Homo sapiens: one gene and its partner. The protein of the gene in region 1 purifies or fractionates together with the protein of each later gene. This does not show direct contact. Each region holds a gene or a part of one and is shown on either strand. Other genes may lie near its edges. The genes, in order: ALG6 and UNC5B.

Region 1 (3,814 bases):
AGCTCACTGCAGCCTCGGACTCCTGGGCTCAAGTGAGCCTCCCACTTCAGCCTCCCAAGTAACAAGTACCCCAGGCGTGCGTCACCATGCCAGGCTAATTTGTAAATTTTTTGTGGAGGTGGTGTCTTGCTATATTCTCTAGGCTGGTCTTGAATTCCTGGGCTCAAGTGATCCTCCCACCTTGGCCTCCAAAAGTGCCAGGATTACAGTTGTGAGCCCCTGCGCCGGCTGTAATACATTTTTTGTCAATGCTTGTGTTTGGTAAATAAATATTGAATGCATAAATGGGAAAGAATTAAACCAGAAAGAGAAAACAGTATTTATTGAGCACCTTCAATGAGCTTGCTATTAATATGCGTCCATTCTCAAGCAGTGAAATGGAAAGTCCTCTAGTAATTTCTTTCTTTGAGATGGAGTCTTGCTCTGTCACCAGGCTGGAGTGCAGTGGCACGATCTCGGCTCACTGCAACCTCCGACTCCCTGGTTCAAGCAATTCTCCTGCCTCAGCCTCCTGAGTAGCTGGGATTACAGGCACGCACCACCGTGTCCAGCTAATTTTTTTTTTTTTTTTTTTGTATTTTTAGTAGAGACGGGGTTTCACCATGTTGGCCAGGATGGTCTTGAACTCCTGACCTCGTGATCCGCCTGTCTCAGCCTCCCAAAGTGCTGCGATTACAGGTGTGAGCCACTGCGCCCGGCCTAGTAATTTCTTTTAGTAGTTTTCAGTTTATAATCCCAGGGTTTAAATCTCATATATTAGTTGACATAGGAAAAAGTCATCCTTCTGGGAAAGGGGGAGAATGCCCAAATCTTTATAGAGCACTTTTTAAAATAAAGAGATTCAAAATAATGATAACAATTATTCAACAACCACCATCATTAGGAAAGTTTATTGTATTTTAAAAAAGTAAACACTAGATGATACCTGCAAAGAGTTCTTTCAACTATTTAAGAATACAGGGTATTATTATTATTTCCATTTCCACTTAAGAAAATAGATTAATCATTTGCTCAAGGTCACACAGTAAATAAAGGGCAAACATGGGGACCAGGACTCAGGGCTTCACACTAGCAATGCTCCTTCTTTGAGCATTGCCACAATTGAATCCCAAAGGTACTGGAGCAGGAGTTGTGGTAAGGAGGTTACAGGGCTTAGAGCTATGACCCTAAACAACTTTTTTTTTTTTTTTTTTTTTTTGGAGATGGAGTCTCGCCCTGTCATCTCACTCTGTTGCCCAGGCTGGAGTGCAGTGGTGTGATCTCAGCTCACTGCAACCTCCTCCTCCCGGGTTCAAGCAGTTCTCCTGCTTCAGCCTCCCAAGTAGCTGGGATTACAGGCACGCACCACCAAGCCCAGCTAATTTTTTTTGTATTTTTAGTAGCGATGGGGTTTCACCATGTTGGCCAGGCTGGTCTCGAACTCCTGACCTCAAGTGATCTACCAGCCTTGGCCTACCAAAGTACTGGGATTACAGGCCTGAGCCACTGTGCCTGGCCCCTAAACAATTCTTTGATAAAGCCAGTGGTTCTGTTTATTGGCATTGTGCTTCCTGTTCCTATACTATTTCCCTTTTTATGTAGCTCTTCCTACTAATTTCTTCCTCCTTTTAATTTTATTATTATCAATTTGTTTTCCTTTATCCTCTTGTCTCTCTTGTCCTCTCCAGTGGCATGATGATGTTGTCTGCCATATCTTTAGTTTTAACTTAGCGGAGTAATATGTAACATGAAAGAACATAAAAGAGATGTTTGAAAACAATACTGGGAATTCATATTTACCAAGTACTACGAAATATGTGACAAAGCCTTCTCAGATTTGTTTATCTGATCCTTTTCTTAAGCTACTTGTTTGTATGATAGAGAAAAAAAGTTCCATTAACGGCATACTGGAAGCAGCAGTTTTCCAATTATTATGAGGAGTTGACACCTCTGTGCCTGTGTCTAGGCTAATTTAGTCTGGACTGTTAACAAAATGAATCAGTAGTCCATATGAAGACCTTCCTGGCTGTTTTTAAGCTACCGCTGAAAATCAGACAGATAAAATGTATTTATATTTTTTACAATTAGGAGTTGAAGTTATATTCTGTAATATTAAAATATTTTTTTCTTTACGATTTTAGACCAGTCTGCTTAGTTTTAAGTGAAATTCCTTTTATGTCTACTTGGTTTTTACTTGTGTCAACATTTAGGTAAGTCATATCAATTTCCATATATTTTCAGTATAATTCTTGTAAACTAATTTAAAACTTTTTTATGAAGTGGTTATGGTTTGAATTGATAATTCTCTTGTGATTTTTAAAAATTTTCCTTTACAGTATGCTACCTCTTCTATTGAAGGATGAACTCCTAATGCCCTCTGTTGTGACAACAATGGCATTTTTTATAGCTTGTGTAACTTCCTTTTCAATATTTGAAAAGACTTCTGAAGAAGAACTGCAGTTGAAATCCTTTTCCATTTCTGTGAGGAAATATCTTCCATGTTTTACATTTCTTTCCAGAATTATACAATATTTGGTAAGTTCAATTTTTAAGAAATGACACATTTTTCAGCATGTCACTATTTTAAAAAATTATTGAAGTAGTGATTTTCTTTTATACCTTTTTGAGATATAATTCACATAAATCCACTCATTTAAAGTATACAACTTAGTGGTTTTAAGTATGTAAACAGATTTGCACAACTATCACCATCATCTAATTTTACATTATTTTGTCACTCCCAGAAGAAATTCTGTACCCATTAGCATTCATTCCCAATTCTATTCTCACTCCTAACTCCCTTCCTTGGACAGCCAGTTTCTGCCTCTTTAGATTTGCCTACTTTGGACATTGCATATAAATGGAATGTATTAGTCTGTGATAGCTGCCATAACAAAATACAACAGAAATTTATTTTCTTACAGTTCTAGAGACTAAAAGTTCAAGATCAAGATCAAGGTTCTACCATCAGGGTTGGTTTCTGGTGAGGCCTCTCTTCCTGGCTTGTAGAAGGTCTCTGCTTTATGTGTCACACATGGAGAGAGACCTCTGTTGTCTCTTCCTTTTCTTGTAAGGACACCAGTACTACTGGATTAGGGCCCCATTCTTATCATCTAATTTAACCTTATTTACCTCCTAAAAGGCTATATCTCCAAATAACAGTCACATTGGGGGTTAGGGCTTCAACATATGAATTTTAATTCAGTCCATAACATGGGATAATAAAATTGTGGTCTTTATGACTCGGTTCTTTCACTTAGTGTGTGTGTGTGTGTGTGTGTGTGTGTGTGTGTATTTATTTATTTTTTTGAGACAGAGTCTTGCTCTGTCACTCAGGCTAGAGTGCAGTGGCATGATCTTGTCTCACTGCAACCTCTGCCTCCTGGATTCAAGCAATTCTCCTGCCTCAGCCTCCCTAGTAGCTGGAACTACAGGCATGCGCCACCATGCCCAGCTAAATTTTGTATTTTTAGTAGAGATGGGATTTCAGTATGTCGGCCAAGCTGTTCTTGAACTCCTGACCTCATGATCTGCCGGCCTTGGCCTCCCAAAGTGCTGGGATTACAGGCATGAGCCACTGCGCCCAGTCACTTAGCATATTTTTGAGGTTCATTTGTTATAGCATATATCAGTACTTTATTCCTTTTTATTACCAAATTATATTCCATTATATGGATATACCACATTTTGTTTATCCATTCATGAATTAATGGACATGAAGTTGTTTCTACTTTTTTAGTGTTATGAATATAATAATGCTGTTGTGAACATTTGTTTACAAGGTATTGAGTGCACATATGTTTTCATTTCCCTTATGTGTATACCTGGGAGTAGA
Region 2 (3,814 bases), on another chromosome or scaffold:
GAGCTCCCTTTACAGCACTGAGAATATTTTTAAGCTGTAAAGTCTGATGCTGGAGAAATCAAAACTGGAACCATAAAACCCCAGACCCTTAGAAGGTAATGTCAGCAAGTGACTAGCCAGAAAAGGCCACTTCAAAAGCTCTGGTTGGCCCTGGAAATCTCCTCCCACCCCACCTTTCAGCCCTTCCTGGAGCTTTTAATGAGCCTTTCCATGGCCTCTGGCTGGGATGGTTGAGAAGGAGTCGAGGTGTCAAGATAATACTTCTTTTTAAGGTGCAATTAAAATCAGAGTTTTTGTAGTGTCTCTGCTTGGTGTGTGTGTGTGTGTGTGTGTGTGTGTGTGTGTGTGCTCGCGTGCATGCGCCTGTGCACACACAATGATAGCCTGTCCTTGTCTCCCTCTGCACTCACTGTAGCAAACACCCATCTCACTTAAACAAATGGAAAATCAAGTGTCTTAATGGGTTTTCTCATTAAAGTGAAAGTACCACTGCAGGGGAGGAATTTCTCCTGTAATCTCTCTCCTCCACCTCTCTCCCCTCCCCCACAAACAGGGAATTCTGTAGGATAAAACAGTTCCCCTCTTTTCCAATCCATTTATTTAACTGTTGACACTTTGGGACAGGCCAACTTGCCCAAGGTCACACTGGGACTCACCGGTAGCGCCAGGACTTGAACTGAGGCCTCACAACCTCAATCTAGTGCTTCTAGCTCCTTCATTCCATCTGGGCTGGAGACCCACCATCATGGGTGTGGGCTTGAGACTCTGAAATTGAGGCACCACTTAAGGCAGGCAGCTAAAGATAAGATCGCTTTGATGGCTGCTTTAGACTGGAACTCATGGCAGGATGGAGGAAAGAGGTTGAGAGTTGGAAGGGTGAAGAGGTGTTCCAGGAGAGGGGGAACAGGGCAGAGCCAAAGGTCAGGAGTGAAGCTCTGAGACCAGGCAAGTGCCCAAAGGTGGCTCCCCCAACCCCCAGCATTGGCCTCCTGAGCAACTGCCCTGACCTGGGGAAGGGAGACAGGTCACAAGCCAAGCTCCCTTGGGCTGCATGGCCAAATAAACATTAGCATTTTATAGCTCTGCACCCATTTGTAGAGTTGGGGACAGAATATGTTTTTACTTTTTACTTATATTCAAAGCTTTAGGAGCCAGTGCCCTCCCCCACCTTTGTTGTTGAGTTTCTCCTGGACCGCAGGTCTAGTGACCCTTTTCCTGGGTGTCAGGCTTAAGACGAGGTCTGCCTCCTACGCCCCATTCCCTGAGCCACAGAGGTTTTCTAAGGAGGTTTGTGGGCTGCCTAAGACTTTGGGGATGGGCTGGGGGGAGATGGATCATTTCCATTCCAAGTGCTCTCGGACCAGGTTAGTGATTCTGAATAGACAGTGCTGGTACCTCCCTCCCCCAGGGCCTGCAGGCAGCCCGTCTTTTGACCCTCAGAGTTGGGGTTGGGTGGAAAGGAGACAGTTTGGAGGCCACTGCCGCCTTCAGGAAAGGGCAGAGGGGGCTGGGTCATAGGCTGGGACTTGGGGGTGGGAGCCTGGGCCCAGGGAAACTGCTGCCTGGGCAGATGGCCCCCAGAGGGTAGGGAGGAGAAAGCCGGCGCTCAGGCCAGAGCTGGCGCTTCTCTTGGCGTCCTCCTCCTTCTCCTCCTCACCAGTTTCCTAAACAGCTTCCACAAATAGAGTCATTAAAGCTGTGAAGGCAAAATGAAACCAAACAAGTGCGTTCTGTGCTTTTCTGTTTCTTATTTTTTTAAGGAAATTAAAAATACCGTAATTAGAATAATACAAGGAGAGAACACTTTGCGGAAGGCCTAGGGTAAGGGCACTTCCCACCCACTGGGTTGGCTCAAGAGGTTGGGACTGGGGCGCCACCTCCCGCCCCCTTAGGGTCTGCGATCCGCCGGGGGCGCCGCGGGCTTTTCCGCCGGCTCCATGCATTTCCCTGAGGCAGGATCTTTTTGGGGGAAGCTGGCATCCCGGCGCTGGCCTCGGCCCCCGACTGGGAGTTGGGTGGCGCTTGATTGGAACTCCGGCCCGGAGCCGCCTCAGCCGCTGCGCCCCCGCGGGCAGACAAGCCCGGGCGGAGCGCGCTAAGCCACAGGTCCCCGCGGCGTTCCTCCCGGTCTTCGGGGATGCTAATGGCAGCGAAAATATTTGCTGAAGTGCAGGCATAAATCAGCCGCCTCCCCGCTCCCCCACCCCCACCCCTTTTGTTTCCTCTTCCTTCTCTCCAAAAGCGCTGGGCTGCTGGGCGCCAGAATTTACCTTTTCCATCTTAGCGGCCTGATTAGCATCGCCGCCGCTTGTGGGGCTGGATTCTACCCTCTCCTGCGTCCCCCACCCCCAGTCCCCATCTCCACCTCCCTCCCCAGCCGAGCTAAATCGGTCTGCGGAGCCCCGGGAGCTCTAACGCCACCGCCTAGCGAGTGAGTGCACGGAGCCGCCCTCCTTCTCACCTCCCAGAACAGGCTGCCCCCAGTGCTTGCAACTTACCCCTTCGCGGCGCTGCACGGCTCGGCTCACTTCTCCAAGAAGGCAGGCTTGTGGGTGTGAGAGTATGTATTAAGGAGTGTGTGGGGGGTGAGAATGTGTATTAAGCAGGTGGGCGGAGGTGGGAGTTTGCAGGGAGGGGAGGGTGGGTGTGGTGTTGCACTGGGGTGTCAGGTGTGTGTGGGGGCGAGGCATGGACTGGGTGTGTGCCGGAGGATGGATGTGTGTTTGAGGAGGGTTGTGCCTTTTGTAACTCAGGAGGTGTGATGTATAGGCTGTGTCTGTGTTTGGGTGTGTGTGGGGTGGGCAATGTCACATGGGCACACTTGTGGTGTGTTTGTGTATAAATAGGTATGTGTAATGTGGAGACAGTGAGTCACCACCAGGCATGGGAAGCTCCATCCATTGTATTCCGTTGGGGATTCCACTTCAGGATGGGACCCAGGCCATTTGCCCATCAGCACTTAAGAGACCTCATTTTGCCCCACACCTGCACTGTGAGCAGGGTTTGGCCTGAGTGCCAGGTTCTGCTGTTGGAAGGGCAGAGGACAGCTTCCCCTGCTGAGTGCAGATGGGATAGGCCTGCCTGCAGGTGGGTCCTGGTGCTCCAGGGGGAGGAAGGTTGGCAGAGATGGACCCTAAGCCAGCCCAGCAGCTTGGGCTACTGCCCCCAGGAAGATCAGAGTCCCAGACCTGGAGTCTTCTGCAGTCAACTCCCAGCTTCCCCAGAGCATGGGAGCGGCTGTGGTTTGGAGATCTGCTCTCTGACCTGGGTCAGCTTATGCTTCAGCCTGTCTCCCCCAAAGGGAGTGAGTTCTCCTCTAGAGTTTGCTGGAGAAGGGGCCAGCAGAGCTTGAGTGGGTGGGATCCCCAGTGGAGAACCCCATCTCAGGCTGACGTGGCTGGGGCCTGGGACTCTCAGCGGTAGCAATTTAAAGAGGACAGACACACCCACACACATGCTGGACTCCACTGTCGTTACAACTTTCTTGGTCACAGAAGCGCTTACCTGCTTTCCCAGGGCTGTCCACAGGAAGGACTTCCATCACTTCAACTCTAGGATAAGATGGACTGTTCTGGAGCAGGGAGGCCTATAGGAAAATCACAGTCCCTCGCCCCACCCTGGTGTGCATGTTGCTTTACAGTTTACAAAACCCTTTTATATGTGCAGTCTCACTTTGTCCTTGTAAGAACTCACCGAGAAGGTGGAAGCTCTCACTTAGAAGGCTGAAGAGACAGGACTGGGACCCAGGTTTGTATTAGTCAGGGTTCTCTAGAGGGAAAGAACTAATATATATATAAAGGAGAGTTTAGTAAGT

The links.
Region 2: the proteins of ALG6 (region 1) and UNC5B fractionate together in Homo sapiens (co-fractionation; one large-scale study listed by BioGRID). This does not show direct contact.

The regions. Positions count from the first base shown.
Region 1 is NC_000001.11:63,426,613-63,430,426, forward strand, and holds part of ALG6 (dolichyl pyrophosphate Man9GlcNAc2 alpha-1,3-glucosyltransferase), read left to right. Parts: intron 1-2,120; coding exon 2,121-2,189; intron 2,190-2,315; coding exon 2,316-2,514; intron 2,515-3,814.
Region 2 is NC_000010.11:71,215,496-71,219,309, forward strand, and holds part of UNC5B (netrin receptor UNC5B isoform 1 precursor), read left to right. Parts: intron 1-1,728; exon of another isoform or gene 1,729-2,140; intron 2,141-2,498; exon of another isoform or gene 2,499-2,733; intron 2,734-3,814. UniProt on the Homo sapiens protein: Receptor for netrin required for axon guidance. Mediates axon repulsion of neuronal growth cones in the developing nervous system upon ligand binding.